Homo sapiens: one gene and its partners. The protein of the gene in region 5 purifies or fractionates together with the protein of the main gene of each other region. This does not show direct contact. Each region holds a gene or a part of one and is shown on either strand. Other genes may lie near its edges. The genes, in order: CLGN, TTC1, DNAJA3, CUX1, SLC12A4, DNAJB4 and TMEM9B.

Region 1 (3,500 bases), on a different chromosome or scaffold from region 5:
TTATTTAAAACTTGGCTCTGGAAGAAATTCTCTTCACCTAGCTCTCCCTAAATATGGATATTCATACTAAATAATGGTCCCAAAGTCCCTATAAAAACTCAGAGGGCAGGAAGACCAGCAAACAGTATGTGTACTGATTAAACATTAGGAAAGACTTAACAATAATTGCAAATTTATTTGGAGGATTTCTTTAAATAGATAAAATACAAAATTCATTTCATCACATGCAAGAGCAGGCAGAACTGTACTTTTATCCTACCTACATAGTTGGAATGTAATATGTTAGGATGGTGACTCTGTGGGGTAAGGCTACCCAGCTCTTTAAGGGCCAGAGAAAACTGGTTTTTGGTTTATGCTGGATTAAAAACAAAAAAGAAAAAAGACAGCTCTGGCTCTAATTATACTCGGGATTTCTCATTCCATAATAACTTACAAAAAAAAAGCATTGTGCAAAGTTCCATTTTATATCAGGACACAAAAAGGGGTAGACTAATAAGGGGGGAGAAAAGTTCACTAAAGATTTGAGAAAAATACCCTATCAGGCAGATAGTACTCAACTACCCAATGAATGAAATATTTTAAAACGTGAGAGTAAAATGTTGAGACAATAAAGATGTTTTACAACAGCTATAAAAATTATAATAATGATAATTATCTTTTAAATATTCAAACAATGTGTTTATTATGCTTTTCAATAGAATTTCAATGAGAAAGTCATAATTTTGGATACATGTATTCTATCTTTATATTTTGTACGCCACAGGCTTGCTCTATACTGTTTTACTAGGCATTGAGACAATATAAATTACAGTATTTTTCTTTCCTTCCTTATGGATATGTTTTAAAAACAATATAGAGGCTCTTATAAAAGCTGAGAGAAATATGGCAAAAATTCTTTCATAAATCATATTGGTGCTTTTATTGAAAAAACTTTTTATGGATAACAACTATACATAGAAACCAGCTTATTTTCTGTTACCTCATCCTCTGACCCAGACTTATTTGATTGATTACTTTCTTCTTGCCCTTCTATGATTTCAATTTCTTCTTCACTCTTTTCCTCAGGTTCACTTTCCTCTTCTAGAATACAGATTTTGTTAAAAGCAAAGACTCAATAAATTAGAATTTTGCTACTGAAAAGTATTAAATACAATAAATGGGATTTATTTAAATTCCAAGATTTATTCCAAGATTTAGAAGCAACTTCTTCCATTCAAAATTTTAAAAATTATAAATACTCATTATATTATCATATTTTATAAATGAATCATATTTGAGTTTGGGGACAAGTTTAAAAAATTCTTAAGCATTCAGTCTGTATGTAATATGAAAACCAAAAAATAATAATCTTTCCTGTGTTCCTGTCTTGGAAAATACTTCCTTTAATTTTTGGTGATCTTTTAATCTTCAATATGTTATTTACTTATGTTTGTTCTCTGTGGACATCATGCATTTTTTCAGTTATTGACCCTCCTTAGGATTCCATTTAGCAGAACCTCCAACTTTTGTCATCATTATTAACCAAAAGATATTAAGCACGTCCTAGGAGCTATATAAAGTAAAAACTCCTACCCTACCAAGAATGGGCTTTGGGGAAAGGGAAGTTGAAAAATCAACTCTACTTCTTCTACGTAGTTCCAATGTGGGACTACGTGTATAGATGAAAGTGGTGAAAGTACCTTTATACAAGCAGGCCCCTCCGATACTTAAATTCCCTCTAAATAAGGCTGATCCAGACATCAATATACTAAGCACTAAGAAGTTACAAAAACAAGGCTGGAAACTTACAACCTGAAACATTTGTTGTTTTAGATACCTATCCTAATACACACATGAACATGTGTATGTATATGTGTGTATATATATATATACTGTCTCTTAAAAAATAGATAGACACATATGTGTTTTTAAGTCAACTGTTTCATTAAGTGAGTTAAACACTGTGCTTCAAGACATTTGGCTTGGGACACTGGGCAAATCAATAGTTTTATTTCTACCTTATGTAAGGAGGTCTCAGCGGACAGCCACCAAAGGGTGACTTCAGTTCTAACATCTTCAAGAGTTTAACATAGGGTGAGAAGGGGATATAGGTTCAGCAATCCTTTCAGAAAATTAATTAAATTATTTCTTCTATATGATAAGCATCTGACTAACAATAGCTGTTGGAAGACTTGGTGTTGATTTTGTTGCTGCAATCATCTGTTTTATATCTATTCCTTTTCTACAGAGGCCATGATATACACCCTCTATCACCCTCCATCTCATCTTCTACACTCCCAGAGCCAAGAAACATCCTTGCAAAAAGCTATGGCCTATGGGATTCATTAACTGCTAGGCTCTCAAGCAACTGAACACTATTTAAATCTCCTTCTTCCTAGAATGCAAAAACTATAAACAGGGTGGCTGCTCAGAGGACTATTATTCCTTCTTGCCACAGTCACATATTCTTGGGAGATTCAGATGTATAAACTTGATAATAAACAAGTATAATAACTAGTTATTTCAAGGCCATATACAGTTTTATGAGCTTTACCCAGAGTCTCCATTATAAATCACTCTCATCATCTTACCTTTTTCAAGCATTTCACCATCATTTTGCTTTTTTTCCTCTTCCAGGTCCATTGGTTTTTCCAGGGCTGCTTTCTCTTCCTTTTCTTCTTGCTCTAGTACTCCTTTTGTTTGTGGTATACATATGTCGGTTTTTTTATACTCTGTATCTTTATGTTTTTTCTGTGGTAGTTAACATAAGTTATTTTTACTAAAGGCAGAGTGCTATTTTGAAAGTTTTTTTGCAATAATTGATAACATACATAATGAACTATCAGTAAAACTTATGAGACATTTAGTTTATTACTTTTAAGAATCGCTTAATTTATAGAACTCTTAAACAACAAGAAATTTGGGTGAAAAAAGTTGAAGGAAATCCATTTTCTTTACCTTTACTTTTCTTGGCCAACAAAATGAAGTAATTAATGCTATTGGCACTCCTGCTGTCACAAGATAAATCAACCAAAGCCATGGGTGCCCTTCAGCAGCTGCCATTAACTGTTTTAATACACCAGGCTATAGACGAGATAAGCATAAAAATGCAATTCAAATTTTACAAACCTTTACTGGGTAACACAAGATACAAAAAAACTTATTTACTCAGGCATTTTACATTAAGGAGTGATGAACTCGTAAGTAAAAGAAGTTTCATTTTCCCACCTTATACTTTGTAAAGTCTAATTTAATTATTAGCATGCATCACTGAGTGAGACTTGATAGCAGAAGGTATGTTATGACAAAAGTGGAAACTTCTAACATACTGGCAAGAAAAATGGTAATTTTCCTTTTTGGTAAATTTCAGAATAGAACTACCTTTTATGGATGTATTACCTGGTTTATTTGAAGTGATCATTCATTCTGTACTCTGATCATTCATTCTGTACTTTTAAAGAACTTACTAAAAATCATACCTCAGAATTGTTTTCTTTTTTATATAAACACATTTCACACAT
Region 2 (3,500 bases), on a different chromosome or scaffold from region 5:
TAGTATCAGGAATAAAATCAAAATGACCATTCATCCTTTCTCTTATCCTCAGATTATATAGAAGCTGAAAGTTCTTATAGTCGAGCCCTCGAAATGTGCCCATCCTGCTTCCAAAAGGAGAGGTCGATTCTATTTTCAAATAGAGCTGCAGCAAGGATGAAACAGGTATGTATCTGTGACCTTTTCTTTTTAAAAAGCACATGGACTTGCAGTCTTTTCATACCATAGTTTCTCTCCAGAAACTAGCATAGAGGTTGCTGCCTCCCTTTTCCTGCCCATATATTTCCCTGATGTAAAGGCCACAGGGAGAATAGAAAATCTTTTGAAAAACTTGAGTCAGATTACTGTTAACATTCCCCATTAAAGTAGCTGAGTGAATACTTTCATGGAAGGAGGGCTGGCAAATTTTTTGCTAAACTAGGTCAGGTTAATGAAGCAATGAGCCAAGCAGTGCATGTCCTAGAATAGCTCTAGATCCTTATTTTAGGCCTCTGGAATTCTAGATAAACATGCAAAGGCACAGGGAAACACTGGTAAAAACTCTGGGCTTTAAAGCATCTTTAAAGATGGTTATTCCCAGGATTCTGACTTTTCTGTTCAAAGTATGGACACTTGGAGAAATCTCCAACAGCTGGGATAAAAGGTACCCTTAAATGCAAAATAGGTGTCAAGGAACTTTGAAAACATTTTGTATTTCCAAAGGACTGAGAACCTAGTATAACAAGGTGAGTATGGAATAGGTGAGAGTACAAATATATTTGTTTTATACCATGACCTTATTAAAAGTTAGATTTGGGCCAGATGCAGTGGCTCACACCCGTAAACCCAGCACTATGGGTGGCCGAGGCGGGCACATCACCTGAGATCAGGAGTTCGAGACCAGCCTGGCCAACATGGTCAAACCCCATCTCTACTAAAAATACAAAAATTAGCCAGGCATGGTGGTGGGCACCTGTAATCCCATCTACTCAAGAAGCTGAGGCAGGAGAGTCGCTGAAGCCTGGAGGCAGAGGTTGCAGTGCACTGCACTCTGGCCTGGGCGACAAGAGCAAAACTCTGTCTCAAAAAAAAAGTTAGATTTGTTTCTGATTTGTCTGATTTTCCGATTTAGTCTTCATAATCCTTGGATTGAAATGAGAGTGGTTTTTTTTTTTTTTAAACCATACCACTTTTTAAACTATGGCTACTTACATCCAAAGTACAAAGGATAGGTTATTTAACATACCTTTAAGCAACCATGATGCTGGCTCAAGATTGGAAGTGGCAGTGTTTTCATTTGTTTGTTTAGATCAGATATCTCTTTGATACTGTCTGAAATTCTCAAATGCCTCTACCACAGTCACTTTAGGTGACAAGGTTTTTTTTGTTGTTGTTGTTTTTTTTAAAGGCCCCAGGGCAGGGTTGCGGGGGTGGGTGCTTGAATGCTTGGACATGCAGAAAGGTTACGGTTTTTTTTTTTTACCAGAACTTGTGTAAGATTCAATCTTCAAAGCAGAGTATTTTTGGAGTATTTCATGTGGCATGAGAGAAGAAATAATTTTATAGTATACAAACCAACATTTTGTATTAGAGAAAACAAAACAATTGGTTTAACTTTATTTAAAACAATATTCATTAATGTGTCCCACCAGCAATCAGAATTAACATCTAACAGTTTTTACACTTACCTGGAAAATTCTGATCTTTTAGATTTGCTTCTCCCTTTTGCCACATTTTTAGACTGGACATTGTCATTGTGAAATAGGATCAAGGATGTGCCTTCAGTATCAGAGGAAATGCACCATACCCAGTTGGCTCCTGGGATTTGGGATTCTTTGTTTCTACAGTTGCCCAAGTTATTGATATTTCTAGGTTTGGGCTCACATAAATAGTCTGGTTCTTGAGTTAGGAAAATGTATGGTCTTGTTAGTATTTTGTCTGTCACATCTGAGGAGAACTCAAAAGAGCGTTGCTCTATGATTGTTGCCTGTTCAAAGAATAGTTTTGTTGGTGAAGTTTTCTGTTCTTTTAAGTTGCGTTTCTTTTTTTTTTTTTTTTTTTTTGAGACGGAGTCTCACTCTGTCACCTAGGCTGGAGTGCAGTGGTGTGATCTCGGCTCACTGCAACCTCCGCCTCCCGTGTTCAAGCGATTCTCCTGCCTCAGCCTCCTGAGTAGCTGGGATTACAAGTGCGCGCCACCACGCCAGGCTAATTTTTGTATTTTTAGTAGAGACAGAGTTTCACCATGTTGGTCAAGCTGGTCTCAAACTCCTGACCTCGTGATCCGCCCACCTCAGCTTCCCAAAGTGCTGGGATTACAGGCGTGAGCCGCCGTCCCCGGCCTTAAGTTGCATTTTTAATACTTTATGAAGACTCTAAAATGAGAGACTTGATAACTTCTAGGATTAGTACCCTGACACAATTTAAGGAGCATATTATATTCTAAGTTTTTCAAGGAAATGATGGTTTAACTGCTTTAAGAGGTAAAGATGAAGAATTTCTGAAAGGCAGGTTTGCAAGCTCAGCATCCCTGACTCAGTGCCCCTGGCCACGCTTCACATTTCATATCTGGAGAGAGAAAAGGTAACCTGGAGCTAGGGCAGAGTTTCAGCTCTAGGTCTCGCTAGCTATACAAGAGCAGAGCCCTAAAAGAGTAGGTTCTCTTTTTTTTTTTTTTTTTAACTACTGTCCTTATATATTATATACATTGTTTTATATGTATAGTTAGATTTGTTTGTCCTTATATGCTGTGTACATTTGTTTTGTCACTATATATTATGTATACTGTTTTATATAGATAGATAGCTACCTATATATAAAAATTATGAAAGAATGGTAAAGTTGTGATTTTTTTTTTTTTCCCACACACTCCACTTTGGGGACTACCATTGTAAGCAGCAGACAACACCTGGGTCCTCTGAGGTATTAGTAGACTATGAGCCTCAAACAAAAGTTTCTGCAATAAAATTCCATAATTCCTTGATTTGAGGAGACAGTGGATAAGATGCACTACAGCTTAATAATCACTTCTAGGCACACAAAGAATACCATCACAACAGTTGTACACATAAATTGTAAAGATTTATTTCTATTTCAGAAACTGTGAAATTGTGTGTCTTTGACTTATAGAAATGTGATAAGTTGAAAAAATATTGACTTATATAAAGTTATACAGATTACTTACAGGACTTCTTAGAGTTTTTGATATTTGAATTGGTATGCTGAACATTGAAAGAGAAATAAAAAAAGGTCCCAGATGACCCTGAAACCTTTTTTGTTTTGTTTATTGTGGTAAAATACAGATAACATAAAGTTGGCCATTTTAAAGTACAGTCATGAGTCACTTAACAACGGGTATACATTCTGAGAAATGTGTTATTAGGTGATTTCATCATTGTGCAAACATCATAGAGTATACTTACACAAATCTGGATGGTATGGCCTACTACACACCTAAGCTATATGGTATAACCTATTGCTCCTGGGCTACAAACCTGTACAGCATGTTTCTGCACTGAATT
Region 3 (3,500 bases), about 64 Mb from region 5:
TTACCATATGACTCAGCAACTATACTCCTAAATATCCAAGAGAACTGAAAACATGTCTACACAAAAACTTACATATGAATGTCTATATAGCAGCACTGTTCATGATAGCAAAAAGTGGAAAATATCCAAATGTCCATCAAACGATGAATAAACAAAATGTGATTAATCCATGCAACAGATTATTTGACCATAAAAAGGGATGAAGTATTGACACAAACTATAACACAGATGAACCCTGAAAACATTATGTGAATGAAAGAAGCCAAGACACACAAAAGGATACATATTGTATGATTCCCTGTATATGAATATTGAGAATAGGCAAATCCAAAGAGGCAGGACGCAGATTAGCAGCTGCTAGGGACCGGGGAGAGAGGACAATGGAAGGGGAGTGCTAATGAATACAGAGTTTCTTTTCGAGGTAATGAAAATGTCCTAAAGTTGACTGTGGTGACAGGTGCACAACTCCAGTGAACTGTGCACTTATAAAAAGCTGTCAATCCTACAATGGTGCCTCCAATATTGATTTTATTTTGTTGGTCAGAGCAAACCAAGGGTCTAGGAACCAGTGGTGTAGACATCTCGTATACAACTTTACTCAGCTACCCTAACTACCCTAATAGACCCTGGGATACAATGGGAATTTCACATTTTCCAGGTTAAGAAAGGGCCAGGCGCGGTGGCTCACGCCTGTAATCCCAGCACTTTGGGAGGCTGAGGCAGGTGGATCACCTGAGGTCAGGAGTTTAAGACCAGCCTGACCAACAAAGTGAAACCGCGTCTCTACTAAAAATACAAAAAAAATTAGCCGGGTGTGGTGGCAGGTGCCTATAGTCCCAGCTACTTGGGAGGCGGACACAGGAGAACTGCTTGAACCCAGGAGGCAGAGGTTGCAGTGAGCCAAGATTGCGCCACTGCACTCCAGCCTCAGCAATGGAGTGAGACTCCATCTCAAAAAAAAAAAAAAAAAAAAAAAAAAAAGAAAGGAAAGGAAGTAATTCTAAACCTCTAAACTTTTATCTGGATGCAAAAAATAACTACCTAAAACTTAGACTAGCATATCTACTGATTCAGAAAATACAGATTAAATTTAATTATGAAAACAGCTCTAGAAAAAAAAACTTCTTAAAATCTCTGGTTTGGACTCACCTCTTTTTTCTGAAGCACCAACCTCTACAGCATTGTGCATCGAAAAACAGTCTAGCAAAGTCCAGCTTTATCACACCCTTCTATACTATCAGCTCATGAGACCTATTCATATGGGCACATACGCTGTACTGATCAGGATCACATGGGATCAACAACATTCCTACTACAATTTGGTCACCAAAACCTGACTTCCATACAGACCTGATAATAGGCTTTCTTGATCTCTTTCTGGCTGGCATTTCGAGGCACTCCTAATATCTGATAATAATCTTCTTTGGCCAAAGGGGCACTCGTGTGGAAGGAGGCAGTACAAATGAAAGGGTTATGTTTTGTTCCTAAAAAGGAAAAAACAAAGAAAATCACTCTGGGAATGTTCTCAACAAAAGAAAACTGTGAGTACATGACCCACCAGGCTATATCTGTGAAGGAACAAACAAACTGATAAGGTTTGGCTGTGTCCCCACCCAGATCTCAACTAGAATTTTAGTTCCCATAATCCCCACGTGTCATGGGAGGGACCTGATGGGAGGTAACTGAATCACAGGAGCGGTTACCTCCATGCTGGTCTCGCGATAGTAAGTTCTCATGAGATCTGATAGTTTTATGAGGGGCTCACCCTTTTGCTCATTCTTCCTGCTGCCATGTTAAGAAGGATGTGTTTGCTTCCCCTTCCGCCACGATCGCTGAGGCCTCCCCAGCCGTGCTGAACTGTGAGTTAAATAAACCTCTTTCCTTTAAAATTTACCCAGTCTTAGGTATGTCTTTATTAGCTGCATGAGAACAGACTAATACACAGGCTACAGCTTTAGGGCTGTTCCCTAATGCACTTCAATAATGGCTAAGGAAGCCACAGTATTCAATTAATATTAAACTATGTCAGAGTATTGGATGAGGCTGATTCTCCTCGCTTATACTACTGGAGTGGTCTCAGTAAACCACTAAAGGAATAATACTCCTGACTGGGAGATGATTAAAAAGGGATTCAGCTCCCCCCTCTTATGCCACATGAGCACTTACCATTTGCTAGGTATTTTCATATTTTCATATTTTTCTGTCACATTTAATGCTTAACAACTCCCCACATTCTTTTCCCTCTATCTTGCAGCCTTGGGTATCTACTTAAGGAGCAGTTCTCAAGACTGCGCTCCCTGGACCAACAGCATCATTAGACTGATGAAAACACAGATGTTCAAGCCCTACTCCAGACATTCACCAGAAACTCAGGAGGTCTCCACCCACTAGATGCCAGTAGAGAACTCCCCGTCTCCAGGCATTGCCAAATGTCCCCTGGGAAGTAAAAGTGTCCCCTGCTGAGAACCAATGACAAATCAATCTAAGAAGGTCGGGGAAGAACTTCTAGGCATCAGCTGTTAAGCTGCAGAAACTGGCTAAGCTGCCCAGGAAAGCATTTGCCACTTTCAGTGGAAAACAAATGGCGGTTACTAACTAGGATGACTTTGTACTTTGGATCTGGATTCACAGCACCTTTTTTAATAGCAAGACACCAACTGCTTAAGAAACAAGGATGTTTTAGTTCATCCACTTAACAGATAGGAAGAGCAGGTTTTTTGTTTTTTGAGATGGAGTCTCGCTCTGTCGCCCAGGCTGGAGTGCAGTGGCGCCATCCTGGCTCACTGCAAGCTCCACTTCCCGGGTTCACGCCATTCTCCTGCCTCAGCCTCCCAAGTAGCTGGGACTACGGGCGCCTGCCACCACACTCGGCTAATTTTTTCATATTTTTAGTAGAGACGGGGTTTCGCCGTGTTAGCCAGGATGGTCTCGATCTCCTGACCTCATGATCCGCCTGCCTCGACCTCCCAAAGTGCTGGGATTACCGGCGTGAGCCACCGTGCCCGGCAGGCTTTTTGTTTCTTTGTTTTTTGAGACGGAGTTTCGCTCTTCTTGCCCAGACTGGCGTGCAGTGGTGCGATTTTGGCTCACTGCAACCTCCGCCTGCTGGGTTCAAGCGACTCTCCTGCCTCAGCCTCCCAAGTAACTGGGACTACAGGCGTGTGCCACCACGCCCAGACTGGAGGTGTTTTAATAGATGAAATCTGTTTAAAAAGTGAATAAGCCGGGCCGGGTATGGTGGCTCCTGCCTGTAATCCCAGCACTTTGGGAGGCCAAGGCGGGCGGATCACCTGAGGTCAGGAGTTAGAGACCAGCCTGACCAACATGGAGAAACCCCATCTCTACTAAAAATACAAAATTAGCCGGATGTGGTGGTACATGCCTGTAATCCCAGCTAGTAAGGAGGCTGAAGCAAGAGAATCGCTTGAACCTGGGGGGCAGAGGTTGCAGTGAGCCAAGATCGCGCCATTGCACTCCAGCCTGGGCAACAGGAGTGAAAC
Region 4 (3,500 bases), on a different chromosome or scaffold from region 5:
CGCAGAGGCCGTGGCTCTGCTGCAAAAGGAGATGGGGGAAATCTAAGTAGCGACCTACGGCATTGAGGCCAGGGAGGTCCATGGGAGGGAGGACTGCCTTGAAGGAGGATCACCCGCCAGCCCCCAGAACAAAGCTCGCATTAATCATCCAAAGACATTCAATTTCGGTTAACATCCTCATAAAACACTGCATTTTCTTGGTGCAAATTGATGCTGTTCAAAACATCTCCCTGCTCTGTTTGAGTCTAAATTTCAGGGTGTTTCAAACATGTCTGATGAAATGACCTCTCAATAGCTCTGTTGATGTGGCACATTGATCCCCTGGTCTTAAACAGAAAAGGAACTTTCTTTTTTGTTTTTTTATTTGAGGCAGGTTCTCACTCTGTTGCCCAGACTGGAGTGCAGTGGCTCAATCATGGCTCACTGCAGCCTCCACCTCCTGGGCTCAAGCCATCCTCCTGCCTTAGCCTCTCAAGTAGCTGGGACCACAGGTACACGCCACCACGCCCAGCTAACCTTTTGATTTTTTTGTAGATCAAAAGATTACAAAATATATGTTGCCCAGGCTGGTCTTGAACTCCTGGACTCAAGCGATCCATCCACCTCAGCCTCCCAAACTGCTGGAATTATAGGCGTGAGCTACTGTGCCCGGCTGGGATTTTTTGAAATTATGAATGTGACTGACATTTTATCTTTTTACGGAGGGTGGGGTAGAAAGGGTGCTTAAATAAAACTTTTGTGTATTTTACTCAAGCCAGGCCTGTTTTACTCATAATGCTAAACAAATCACTAATGGACCGTGAACAATGTAGGGAAGGTGGCCATGGGACACGCCCTCTTCTGCGGGGTGGGAAGAGGGGAGGTGTCATCTGTGATGTGTTCTCCCTACAGAACCAGCTTTGCATGAGGATCGAGCCCAGTCAACGTTGCTGCTATGGGGCTGGAGGGGACTTAAGGGCTCCTCCCAAAAGTGAGACCAGCACCCAAGGCCAATTGGACCCGCGGCCACTAAGCATACGGAGACGCTATACATCATGTAATGCAATTCCCTCTGATACGATCTCTAGTATTGAAATACTATAGGGTTTCCTAAGTATGGAGTGCTGAGTGCGTTTCAAAGGCCAGATCTCCCAAATCTAACAGCCTTAACTCATGCCGGGCCACCCTTGAGCTCTGGACGTGGCAGAAGCAAAGAGAACTTTACCTGATGTGATGCACAAATGTTTCATCACGCACACAGACACACGCACGCATGCACACACACATGTGCAACTCTGTGACGGGCTCGCACGCTGGCGCCACCCAACGCCAGTCTCTCACCTCTTTGTCTGCCTTGGATGCTACGGAGGGCCAGGATGTTCTGCTCATCGGAGAGGAACTGTTTCATCTTGTGAAATGGCTCCTTGCCACGAACAGTCAGTTTATTCCATGGCTTGGGCCGGGCCAGAATCTCGCTCACGGACCCTTGAGACAGTCCCAACACATAATGTCCGAAAATACGTTGTCCGATATTGTGCTTAATCAGCTGCTCTTTGACCTGCCGGGCGATTTCTGCAGTGTCCATCTCCTCGCCCTCGGAGACGCTCCCAGCACTTTCTGACTGGCTGGGGGATGGGGCCATGCCATTGACATCTGGGCTTTGTTGTAATGGACTTTGGGAAGATATGGAGTTTGTGCTGTATGGACCTGTTGAAAAAATCATGCTTGTGCTTCCGGCTTCCTGCATAGCCTTGGAGTAGAAGGACTGCATTAGCTGCCGCTGGAGAAGAGAGTTTAGTGCAAATTTTCCTGTAGAAGCCAGGGGTAGGCTGGGGCTTGCCAGGGATGAGCTGAAAAAGTCTTGACTTAACCCCGCTGGTGAGAACTGGTGTGTACCATTAGTATTGGAAGCCTGCTCCCCCGGGTTGCGGGGCAACTGAGAAGGAGGGGGGGCCGGCAAAGATCCCGGGCGCCGACTTTCAGGCTGGTCTTTCCCTTTCCTCCTGGCTGACCCTACAAGGAAGGGCAAACAGAATGCATTATGGGGGATTCCAAAGGGGGAAAAAAAAACCAAGACCAAAATGCAAAAGTTTGCCCCCGCAAAAGGGAAAACAAAAAAAAGTGCAGGTTTTTTTTACAAGGGCCAATGAGGTGGGTTGGTTTGTTTTCCGATTAAATTTGTAAGTCAGCCAAACGAGGCTTCCCAAAACAAGCAACATGCATTCATGTTTGCGCCTTTCTTGTACGTTGCAGCCTGGAGAGTCCCCTTGACATAGACTCAAACTCCTAGCGTGACAAGGAGCTGGTGACACACACAGGGAAGAGTTGACGGGTCGCGGGCCTCTTACTGGGCCCGCTGGCCCCGGCCGGAGGAGCAGCAAACACTGACATTTTAGGACCAATGGATTCGCTCGCACCTCTTGCTCTGAGGCGATGCACCGTACCGAGCCCCCTCGATGTGGAGGCGCGCGCCCGTTTTGAGAATGCAATACCATTAGAGCCCGAGACACCTGTACGCGTTTTACCAGCTGCCCAAACCAGAAGCACAGTCAAGTGACGCCACCATTTGGGGGATGAGCCAAGAAAGGCTAAGGATGGGGGACGCGTCCCCAGGGGAAACCTGACCAAGGAAGAAAAACCTCTACTGGACCCGGCAGGCCCGGGGCTGTCCCTGAAAACACCACCAGAGCGAGGCTGGGTTCACACTGCCCCTGGCCTCTGTGCAGCACAACCAGACACAGATCAGAAAGGCCGACGTCCTCCGAGCTGTCCCTCCCGGGGATTCCAGCCGCACTGCCCCTAACTGACCTCCGCAGAGCCTGTGCGGCTGGCCCGTCTCGACATCCAGCTTTAAGCAGGGCGGGGAAGGGAAGGGAGGAGCGGTGAGGAGGAGGGCACCCAACACGCGTTAGTCAAAGGTTCTCGTCAACCGGCGCTTCTCTGGCCATGCATCTGTCCAGACTCACGATTCACCTTCCTCGTCCTCGACCGACCCCTGGAAGCGAACCAACCACCGCACACGCGCGAAGCCCGGCCAACCTACCGCTCAGGTCGCTGTTGGAGATGCGCAGCGCGGCGTTCTCGGACTGCAGCGAGCGGTTCTTCTCCAGCAACAGCACCTCCAGGGGCTTGGCCGCATCCTAGAAGGGGCAGAGCGGGGGTCTCACTGCGGGGCCGGCCACTCACCCGCTCCCGGGGCCACCAGGCCTGGAGCCCTGCCTCCCTCCATCTGTCCGCGTTCCCACCCAGCTCTCGATCTGATTAGGAAGTGGGCTGCGGACAGCTGATTTCCCCCCAAGTCGTTTAACACACGTGGAAAACAAGTTCCCTTTAGAAAGAATGGATTCTAGTTGAAGTCATTTTCCTTCTTAGACTTCCACAGCTCCTAAAAAAATTAATTATTCTCTCATCTGTTCTCAAACTCAAGCGACCTGAGCCCGTGCCTCATTTGGCCATAAGACTGGCTGCCAAGCCACAAACGTCTGTCCGAACGTTACTGTAAAGGGAACTTTTCTTTTTTT
Region 5 (3,500 bases):
GGCCAGACAGGCTCCACTCACTCCAAACTCGGCTGCCAGGAGCCAGGCTGGGAGGACACTGGGGGGCTGGGAAGGCGGCCAGTCCTGCCCCCGTTCCCAAGCTGGCCACACAAGGACAGCTCTGTGCTCTGTGCCCCTGCTCAGCCTGTGGGCTCAAGAGCAAGACGACGGGAGGGAGGACCCACCCTGGAGCACACCAGCAGCTGCCCCGGGGATGCCAGGGATCTCGGTCACATTGTTGAGCATGAAGTAGGGGTCACAGGAGTCGGTCGTAAGGTTGGGGCTGTGGCAGAAGAAACTCCATAGCTGGGTGGCCACTGTCTCATTGTCCACTACAGCTGTCTTGGCACAGATGTCAAACTGGTCCCGGGACAGGGTCCTGTTGCCCAGCATGCATACCCTGTGAGGGACAGAAGCACCGGCACCTGCTCAGGTCAAAGCCCCTGCCTGTGCCCACCCTGCAGTCTCTGGGATCTGGGGCATCAAAGGCTGGCTACATGGGAGGGATGTCCATGCAATGCCCAGATAAATTCCTGGGTTACTTACGGAAACACGGGAGGGTCAAATATAGACTTTATGCCCCCAGCATAGATGGAGAGGATGGAGATGATCACACAGGCCAGGAAGAGCGAGGCAAATTTGTTCACATACTTGACCCCCACAAACACCACCAGGGTCATGAAGGTCAGGAAAATGGTCCCATACACACGCATATTGTTCAAAGTGGCATTCGACGTGTCATGAGCACCCGATGGGTAAAAAATGGCAGCTGGTGGGGCAATGTAGGTCTGAAACAAGAAGATGGATAAGGAGGGTTTTATTTCTTATTTGGAAAGTGAAACTTGTCGTTTTGGTTTTCTTTTTACGAGTACCTAAAAGAGGCCGGGCGCAGTGGCTCACGCCTGTAATCCCAGCACTTTGGGAGGCTGAGGTGGGGGATCACTTGAGGTCAGGAGATCATGACTAGCCTGGCCAACATGGGGAAACGCCATCTCTACTAAAAATTAGCCGGGCGTGGTGGCACGTGCCTGTAATCCCAGCAACTGGAGGCTGAGGCAGGAGGATCGCCTGAATCCAGGAAGCAGAGGTTGCAGTGAGCAGAGATCGCACCACTGCACTCCAGCCTGGGTGACAGAGGGGGACTCCGTCTCAAAAAAAAATAAAAAATAGGTCAGCGCCGTGGCTCACGCCTGTAATCCCAGCACTTTGGGAGGCTGAGGCGGTGGATCACTTGAGGTCAGGAGTTTGAGACCAGCCTGGCCAACATGGTGAAACCTCATCTCTACTAAAAATACAAAAATTAGTGGTGCAAAAACTGGTAGTAGTGGCACACGCCTGTAATCCCAGCTACTCGGGAGGCTGAGGCAGGAGAATCACTTCAGTCTCGGAGGTGGTGGTTGCAGTGAGTAGAGACCACACCACGGCACTCCAGTCTGGGTGACAGAGTGAGACCTTGTCTCAAAAAAATAAATGAATAGGCCGGGCGCAATGGCTCATGCCTATAATCCCAGCACTCTGGGAGGCCGACTGCCTGAGCTCAAGAGTTCGAGACAACCCCAGGCAACTTGGTGAAACCTCATCTCTACTAAAATACAAAAAATTAGCTGGGCGTGGTGGCATGAGCCTGTAATCCCAGCTACTCGGGAGGCTGAGGCAGGAGAATCACTTGAACCCAGGAGGCGGAAATTGCAGTGAGCTGTGATCATGCCACTGCACTCCAGCTTGGGCGACAGAGTGAGACTGCATCTCAAAACAAATAAATAAATAAAAATAAAAAATAAGAGTACCTAAAAGAAGCCAGTCACAAAAGGTCACATATTATATGATTCTGTTTATATGAGATGCCCAGAATAGGCAAATCCCAAGGCAGAAAGCAGATTCCTGGTTGCCAGGGCTGGCGGGGAATGGAGAGTGACTGCTAATGGGGGTTCTTGGGATGATGAAAATGTTCTAGAATTGACTGCGCAACTCTGTGAATATACTATAAAACATTGAATTGTACACTTTCAATGGTATATAAATTGGTATGGGAATTGCATGGTATGTAAATTATATGTTAATAAAGCTGTTACTTAAAAACAAGCAAACAAAAAGGATCCAAACATAGATGCCAACCTGAATCGTTAAATAGCCAAAGTGGAACAGTTTGAGCAAGAAAATAAATAATGATAGTATTGGATTACAACCCAAAGAATAAAGTAAATATCCAGAAGTCCATACAGATATAATGACATGGCTGAATAGATAAACAGGAGAAGGGACAAATCCCACATAATGAATGTAGAAGGGATATGAGAAATGAAAACAAGCCAAAGCCCCCCCAAATCAGAAGATTCAGGTGCAGGGTCCTGCTGCAGGTAGAGGACCTGGAGACAAGAACAGCCAGGCAGTCCCTCCAGGTATCTCCTACCCTCTGGATCCCCAGGGGCGGGCACCTGTCACCCCATGCCTCCCGCAGCTCCTTGCCTCTTCTCCCACTGGTACGGCAGTTCACTGGGGAATGAGAAGCTGAGGCTGACAGAGCTCCCATGGGGCTCGTGGAGGGAGCGCCGACCTCCAGCAGGGTTCTGTGGCTGCTTACCCTGATTGAAGGACAAGGAGAAGGTGGATCTGAAGTGCCCTGGCACAGAGCCCCGGAGGACACAGAGCTGGCCAGAGCTCACACAAGCCCAGAAGGAAGCCTACATCACCACCAAGATCTGTCACTGAGCTGAATACAACAGTTCCTGGAACCCTTGCCATGGCTGCAATGGTGCCCAGGTGGATGGAACATCCAGGGCCGAGGTGAAGGCAGCCAGGCCTCTGCCTTGCCTGGCCCAAACTGGCATGGAGGTGAAAGGAAGACCAGCCTGAGTAAAGGTCTTTGTCTCTCGAAGAGGCTTCCTACTTTATAATACCCAGGCCTTGGCCAGACATGTGGGGATGAACAGCCTGAGCCTTCTGTTTGGAGTCCAAAGGGACTGTTTGGACATGGCCAGAGTTGGCCAGGGCTCAGCCTGACTCACCAGCAAGATCTCGATGGCCCCCAGGATGTACATGGCTGCTGCGAATGTTGTTCCCAGGTAGAAGCACAGGCCCACAGCACCTCCAAATTCTGGCCCCAGTGAACGAGAGATCATGAAATAGGAGCCCCCAGCTACAGCAGAGAAATGAAAGTGTGCACAGGTCAAGGCTGGTTCTTCTTCAAGGGGTCTCCCTGTGACAAGCCTGCACAACCACCCAGAGGGACAGGGACTGCTTTTCCTGTTTGTGGATGAGTAGAGGGGCTGGGAGACCTACCCAGGGCTGCACGGTGGGTAAGCATCTAGGCTGACATTCGATCCTATCCCCATCTGACTCGAATGTCCAGCACGGCCCGTGGAAATAACTGCTTTGCGGGAGCAGCTCTAGTCTGCAGCAGTGGCTGACTGGCCACCATCCTCCAATGCCCTGTGCACAGCCCACAGCCTCCTCTGGCTGGGTGTGTCCTATCTCAGCCCACCTCACCCTCCTGAGGCCTG
Region 6 (3,500 bases), on a different chromosome or scaffold from region 5:
TGAGGACATTCTATGAAAAATGGTTTTTTAGACACTACGATTGTCATTCCTACTCTAGATACCAAATTTTTTAGGCATATCACATCTTAGCATTAATTTCAATGCTTGTAAGAAGACTGAAATCAAGAGCTGTAAACTTTGACACGTAAGGCCTCTATATGGGTTATTTCTGTCTCTTGTGAACAGTCCACCTCAGGCAACAATATAGTGACTTTTTGACCCTTTGCTTAAGGGTTCCACTAAGTAATATTTAACCCACAAAAGATTATATTTGAAACAACATTTTCCACTATGAAAGAAATGTTCTACTAAAACTCAAAAAACAACAGTATGGTGATCTTTTAAGGGGTCAATACAGATCAAGAAACAAGCAGGAAAAGAATCTAAAAATCATAAAACTATGAAAAATCCAACAGATTAAGCTAGGAGATTCTAATATCTCCAAACAGTGAGTGATTTGAAGGCAGGAAATATATTTATTTTGCACTGCTCATGCATACAGGGCTGAAAATGGTAGGTATTCATGCTTAGTGAATGAAGGGAATGAACTAATTCCTAAAGTCCTTCTAAATCAAAACTAAAAAAGGTGTCTTGAGTATCGGTACAGAGAAAAAGGCAGAAGCAAAAACAATGTAAAATATAATCACACATATACATATATGAGAGATTTAACAATTTAAAATGCCACTAACACACAGCATACTTTAAAGAAACTTAGTTTTGCTTACGTCTTATTCTGCATTTGGCTTCTTCCATTAAAAGGTATATATCTACTCTATTTCATCTAACAGGGTCTCAAGTGATATCTAAAATTTTTACCTTCATCCATGAATAGAAATCTGGAGAGATCAAGAGAGACCTAATAATCTGAAAATTGCCAAAATATGTATTGAACAATATATCCAAATAGCAGTTAGGGAAATTCCTTGTAGAATGACAAGTATAAGCAGGACAAGATCTTTTCATAAGCAGCTCATCCAAATTTCCCTTTTATAAATTTTAGTAGTATAATTATAACTCCAAATGTTAAAAAGGTAATGGCAGATTTTTTTTTTAATGATAGAATAATATGTAGCTCAAGGTCATGACCAAAGTGACTCAACCAATGCTTAAATTATTTAAATAATTTTATCCTTCATCCCATAGACTTAAGGGAGTATAATTATTTAACTGAGTTAAGTAAACTGGGTAAATCAGCCTGCCCAATCTAGCCTCTTATAAGACAAAATTTAAATACTTGCACCCATAATGAATTCATGAAAAGAAAGAATAATGTTTTAATTTATTACATCATGGGTTTGGCTTTCTGGAAAACCTCTTCCTCCTCTGCCAAAAAGGGCAATTCGGTCATAATTACAAAGTCTCTGAGAAGATTCATACAAAGTCTGAAGTAACTTACCAAAGCTGATAAAAAGACTCCAATGCAGCTTTGAGGTTTTCCTAGACACTATTAAACAGTCAACTATGCAGCTCAGACAAAGAACGAAGCTACTCTAATGAATGAAAAAAATCCTAGGCTGGGCACAGTGGCTCACACCTATAATCCCAGAACTTTGGGAGGCCAAGGTGGGTGGAGCATGAGGTCTGGAGTTCGAGATCAGCCTGACCAACATGGTGAAACCTCGTCTCTACTAAAAATACAAAAATTAGCCAGGCGTGGTGGCGCACGCCTGTAATCCCAGCTACTCAGGAGACTGATTCTGTCTCAAAAACAACAAAAAAAAGAAAAAAATCCTACCAAAATTCATGCCACTTTAATATACATTATTATGCAAGTATCACTTGCATTGTCTAGCACATAAAATTATAAGTAATGTCACATTAACTATATGGTCAGTTCTTAATCATGTACATTTTGAACGCTAATGGAAATGTTTAATATCCAATTGGATTCCCTCTGCTATTCAAAATGTTTTCTAGACATCGTCATCACTTTGTGTGATCAAAAAACGCACCAGAGAAGCAACATTTGCCTATGATTTAGCAAGACTGCTATTATTTTACAACTAACCAGTCAACCAGTTTGCAGTCCCAAACCAAATATGTGTTTGGAATACTATCTATAACAATGATTCCCACTAATTAGTTAAGGTTGACTAAAAGTTTCCAAAAGAAGAAACACTGGAGAAAAATTCAGATTGCAAAGAAAAAAACATGATAATACTTTAATAACTCTTACTCCATCCAAGGAGATCTAATATGTAAAAATCCAGATTTACAGCAAGACTTCAGTTATCAAATAATGAGATTCTGAGATTTTTTAAACAGTTTTAATTCACAAAAATCAAATTTACTTACATGTTTTTAGAACACACAGTGAATTAAAAAAAATCCAGCTAGCTAAATATATAAGTTAAAGAACAGAAGAGAACTAGTATAAAGATTAATAAATACAAGTTTTATCATTTAAACACTACCTTTTAATATTTGAAGTTACTGAATAAATCATATGCAATAACAAAATAAGGAAAGCATAAAAAAAGAAAAATTAGAAAACTAGAATAAATGAGGATGTGTTATTGAAAATCTTTTCTTTTAAATCTCTTAACACAAATTTTTGTTGACATCCACTAAACTATTCAAGACTAAACCTAAAACTTTAGAGAGTGGTTCAGAATCCAATTTTAAATTTCTGTAGTTCTGTGGTTTTTGTTTTCAAATGATTCAACTATAGAGAAATTTTATTTTTAAAAAGATTTATTACATATATAAAATTAACCTATTGTACAAATACAATTCAATTGATTATAGTAAATTGATAGAGCTGTATAACCATCATCACAATCCAGTTATAGAACATTTCCATCATTCCAAAGAATTCTCTAGTTCTTATTTGTAGCTAATCCCCGCTCCCACCTCAAGTCCTAGGCAAGAAAGATCTGCTTTCTTTTTCTATATACTGGCCTTTTCCAGACATTTCACATAAATAAAATCATACAATATATAGTCTTTTACATCTGGCTTCTTTAATTTAGCATAGTTTCTGAGGTTCATCAATGGTGTAGCATGTTTCACAAATTGGTCCTTTTATTGCTAAATAGTTCCTCATTGAATGTATATAGCACATTTTGTTTAATTCACCAATTTATGGTGCTTTCAGATTGTTTCCAGTTTGGGGCTATTATAAATAATGCTGCTATAAGCATTCAGGTACATGTCTTTGTGTGGACATGTTTTTGTTTCCCTTTTATAGATTCCTAAAAGTAAATTTGAGTTATCCGTATTTTTTTTCTTTCCTTTGCTTTTTCTAGAGGTAGGGTCTTGCTATGTTGCAAAGGCTGGACTCAAACTCTTGGGCTCAAGCAATCCTTCAGCCTCAGCCTCCCTATTAGCTGAGACTACAGGCATATGCCACCTCACCCAGCTAGCCAACTGTTTTTAAAACAAAGCATTTTAAATTGTGAATATTCAGAACACAAATATACTGTGTTCTGGATTACTGGTTCTTTCACTCCTAAATACATAAATTTAGCATATGCAACTTACATACTTTTCAGTTT
Region 7 (3,500 bases), on a different chromosome or scaffold from region 5:
TTTTTGTAGAGTTGTTACCATAAATTCACAGCTCTGGTCAGAAAACCTCTCTGCCTAGAATCAGTTTAAAAGACATCCAAGAGTCAGCCAGGCCTCACAGAGACAGTGTTCTCAAATAGTCAATACACAAGCAGAATCAATCACTGGTGGACAAAACAATTACTGAGCATGTGATCCCACCAATTAAATGCCTGCCCTACATGTTTTCATCTCTACATCCATTTCTCTTATGTTTTGTGTTATTATATTGTCTATTTCTGAAATCAGGAACAGATATTTAACGCTGTAAAGGAAGGATGTCGTTTAAGACTTTCAACGTCTATGCCTATAGATGCACGAGCCATTCCAGGGTAAAAGGACTTTTGACTGGCTGGCAAGGGCTCACTCTGGGTTTGGCTTTTGAATTGAACCTTAAAACTATTCTGAATTTTACCCATTTTAAGGAACATAGTCCAATATAATAATCCACGAGAAAAAGTAATTTCTAAAAAAATAATTATATATAATAATGAAAGAATGGAAAATTCAGCTGGGTGCGGTGGCTCACGCCTGTAATCCCAGCACTTTGGGAGGCCGAGGCAGGGGGATCATGAGGTCAGGAGATTGAGACCATCCTGGCTAACACAGTGAAACCCCGTCTCTACTAGAAAAAAAAAATACGAAAAATTAGCCGGGCGCGATGGCGGGCGCCTGTAGTTCCAGCTACTTGGGAGGCTGAGGCAGGAGAATGGCGTGAACCCGGGAGGCGGAGCTTGCAGTGCGCTGAGATCGCACCACTGCAGTCCAGCCGGGGCAACAGAGCGAGACTGCGTCTCAAAAAAAAAAAAAAAGGAAAATTCAGAAACAATTTCATACAGGGTAATGATGAAACAAAAATATCCAGCCAGGCGCAGTGGCTCACACCTGTAATCCCAGCACTTTGGGAGGCCGAGGCGAGCTGATCACTTGAGGTCAGGAGTTCAAGAGCAGCCTGGCCAAAATGGTGAAACTCCGTCTCTACTAAAAATACAAAAAAAATTAGCCAGGCGTGGTGGCAGGTGCCTGTAGAACCAGCTACCTGGGAGGCTGAGGCAGGAGAATTGCTTGAACTTGGGAGGCTGAGGTTGTAGTGAGCCAAAGTCACGCCACTGCACTCCAGCATGGGCGACAGAGTGAGACTCCGTCTCAAAAAACAAAAAAAACATTCTCTAAGCTACACTGAAAAACAGATTTGTGGACTAAGTCAATTTCTGGACATTTTTGAATAAACGAATATTAAAACAAAAAGGAGACCATGAAGCAATTTATACAGATTATGCCAACTATATACACACACACACACACACACACACACACACGCTATATATATATATATATAAACATATATAATGTACACACGTGTGTGTGTGTGTGTGTGAGAGATTTAAAGACAGGAAGAGAATCTGGAGTGATGGTAGTCATGGTTTTATTTTTCTCTAAAGATCTCAGATTTTTTTTTTCTTTTTTTTTAAACAGGCTTCTTGCTGTGTTGCTTAGGCTGGAGTCCTATGGTGTGATCACAGTTCTGCAGCCTCAAACTCCTGGGGTCAAGTGACACTCCTGTCTCAGCCTCCTGAATAGTTGGGACCACAGGCATGCACCACCACACCCGGCTAATGCTTTTATTTTTTGTAGAGACAGGGTCTCACCATGTTGACCAGGGTGGTCTTGAACTCCTGGGCTCAAGTGATCCTCCCACCTTGGCCTCCCAAAGTGCTGGGATTACAGGTGTATGCCCCCACACCTGGCCCACAGATTTTTTTTTAAGCAGTAGAAAAAAAGGAAATATAAAACATCAGCAGGTTATCAAGTTGTACTTCATTAAGAAAAGAACATCATGATCTTCACACTTCCCTTGATGAAAACCTCTCTGCCTTCTAAAATATTTGGTGATATTGACAGAGAAGGTGTTTCAGGCAGGAGAGCTTGGAGAGAAAACCATCTCTGATACTTTTCTCAATGTAAACAGGGAATGGCAATAAAATTGTGCCTTTGGTACTGAAAGCAAGGCCCTGTATAGCATGCTCACCAAAGATCATCGTTTAAATCATCACATTTATGGCTTCATCAAGCAATTTCTTCATAAAGAGGTATATACTGAAATCAGAGCTGTTTTTAGCTTCTCTAGTTGAGGATCTGCTTCAGCACGTGAACATCTATATATGACTATTTTTCACTTGCACTTCACATCGAATGATGACAGGGACTGGCCATGAGCAGCTAGGGCAGGCTGGGAACTTACCCCAATATCATCATCACTCTGTATCAACTGTGCATGTCCAAAGAGGCGCCTCTTCAGTATGGGCTCAACCAGAGTAAGATATACCATGTACAGAAGTAGAAGGCCCAAAATGGAGAGATAAATTATAATGGTAACCTAAAGGAAATTGAAAATTAAGTTACATCTTTGTTCAAGCCCATAAATCAGAACTTTGTATGATAATAGTAAAACTGACTGACATATCTGCTAAGCCTATAGGATTTCTATACAAACCAGATAGCAATATAAGAAATAAACTCAACTCTTCACCAAAGTATTATTTAAGAAAAAAAGAGGAAAGATCTTTGGGATTTTTTTGCAAGTCTTCAAGACTCCAACTTCACCTACTGCTAATCACCTGTCACCACTGCTAGCACAGCAGTTTGTTTCTTTTCCCAGCTGAACATAATGTCCTAAATTCAGCTACTCTTTAGCTCAATTTAGATATACAAAAGTATTTTCTAGGCCGGTGATTTTTTCTTGTGACCTTAATTCATGTACTGAGAAAAAGTACAGTGTGACACACCCACTAGAAGGACTACAATAAAATAAATAGACAATACCAAGTATTAGCAAGGATATGGAGAAACAGCCCTCATACGCTGTGGTGGGAATGTAAAGTGGTACAACCACTTTGGGAAACAATCTGGCAGTCTCTTAAAAAGTTAAACATAATTTTACCATTCTAAGGAATTAACCCAAGAGAATGGAAAACATATATATCCATACAAAGACATATGTGCAGATATTCACAACAGTATTATTCATAATAGTAAAAACCCAGACATAATCCAAACGTCCATCAACTGATAAATGCATATTCATATAGTGAAATACTATTCAGCAATAAAAAGAAACGAAGTACTGATACATGCTACAACTTGCATAAACATCAAAAACATTGTGCTAAATGAAAGAAGCCAGTCACAGAAGACTATATATTATATGATTCCATATACATGAAATGTCCATGTATGCAGAGACAGAAAGTAGACTAGTGACCGAGTAGGGCTGGAAATGGGAATTAACTGTAAATGGGCATGAGGGATCTTTTTGGGGTAGTGGGAATGTTCTGAAACTGGATTTTATTTTTTTTTTTTTGAGACAGAGTCTCACTGGAGTGCAGTGGCACGATCTCAGCTCACTGCAACCTCTGCCTCCAGGATCAAGTGATTCTCATGCCGTAGCCTCCCAAGTAGCTGGGACTACAGGTGCGTGCCAC

What was found.
Region 1: the proteins of SLC12A4 (region 5) and CLGN purify together in Homo sapiens (co-immunoprecipitation; 2 studies listed by BioGRID and IntAct, with this or other methods). This does not show direct contact.
Region 2: the proteins of SLC12A4 (region 5) and TTC1 purify together in Homo sapiens (affinity purification with mass spectrometry; one large-scale study listed by BioGRID and IntAct). This does not show direct contact.
Region 3: the proteins of SLC12A4 (region 5) and DNAJA3 purify together in Homo sapiens (affinity purification with mass spectrometry; one large-scale study listed by BioGRID and IntAct). This does not show direct contact.
Region 4: the proteins of SLC12A4 (region 5) and CUX1 purify together in Homo sapiens (affinity purification with mass spectrometry; one large-scale study listed by BioGRID and IntAct). This does not show direct contact.
Region 6: the proteins of SLC12A4 (region 5) and DNAJB4 purify together in Homo sapiens (affinity purification with mass spectrometry; one large-scale study listed by BioGRID and IntAct). This does not show direct contact.
Region 7: the proteins of SLC12A4 (region 5) and TMEM9B purify together in Homo sapiens (affinity purification with mass spectrometry; 2 studies listed by BioGRID and IntAct, with this or other methods). This does not show direct contact.

Annotation. Positions count from the first base shown.
Region 1 is NC_000004.12:140,389,649-140,393,148, forward strand, and holds part of CLGN (calmegin precursor), read right to left. Parts: intron 3,064-3,500; coding exon 2,938-3,063; intron 2,731-2,937; coding exon 2,571-2,730; intron 1,081-2,570; coding exon 980-1,080; intron 1-979. UniProt on the Homo sapiens protein: Functions during spermatogenesis as a chaperone for a range of client proteins that are important for sperm adhesion onto the egg zona pellucida and for subsequent penetration of the zona pellucida.
Region 2 is NC_000005.10:160,036,639-160,040,138, forward strand, and holds part of TTC1 (tetratricopeptide repeat protein 1), read left to right. Parts: intron 1-52; coding exon 53-165; intron 166-3,500.
Region 3 is NC_000016.10:4,432,368-4,435,867, reverse strand, and holds part of DNAJA3 (dnaJ homolog subfamily A member 3, mitochondrial), read right to left. Parts: intron 1,485-3,500; coding exon 1,351-1,484; intron 1-1,350. UniProt on the Homo sapiens protein: Modulates apoptotic signal transduction or effector structures within the mitochondrial matrix. Affect cytochrome C release from the mitochondria and caspase 3 activation, but not caspase 8 activation.
Region 4 is NC_000007.14:102,195,126-102,198,625, reverse strand, and holds part of CUX1 (Homeobox protein cut-like 1), read right to left. Parts: intron 3,120-3,500; coding exon 3,023-3,119; intron 1,993-3,022; coding exon 1,321-1,992; intron 1-1,320. UniProt on the Homo sapiens protein: May be involved in intra-Golgi retrograde transport.
Region 5 is NC_000016.10:67,951,638-67,955,137, forward strand, and holds part of SLC12A4 (solute carrier family 12 member 4), read right to left. Parts: intron 3,137-3,500; coding exon 3,006-3,136; intron 789-3,005; coding exon 547-788; intron 401-546; coding exon 186-400; intron 1-185. UniProt on the Homo sapiens protein: Mediates electroneutral potassium-chloride cotransport when activated by cell swelling. May contribute to cell volume homeostasis in single cells. May be involved in the regulation of basolateral Cl(-) exit in NaCl absorbing epithelia.
Region 6 is NC_000001.11:78,007,939-78,011,438, reverse strand, and holds part of DNAJB4 (dnaJ homolog subfamily B member 4), read right to left. Parts: intron 1-3,500. UniProt on the Homo sapiens protein: Probable chaperone. Stimulates ATP hydrolysis and the folding of unfolded proteins mediated by HSPA1A/B (in vitro).
Region 7 is NC_000011.10:8,950,943-8,954,442, forward strand, and holds part of TMEM9B (transmembrane protein 9B isoform a precursor), read right to left. Parts: intron 2,396-3,500; coding exon 2,261-2,395; intron 1-2,260. UniProt on the Homo sapiens protein: Enhances production of pro-inflammatory cytokines induced by TNF, IL1B, and TLR ligands. Has a role in TNF activation of both the NF-kappaB and MAPK pathways.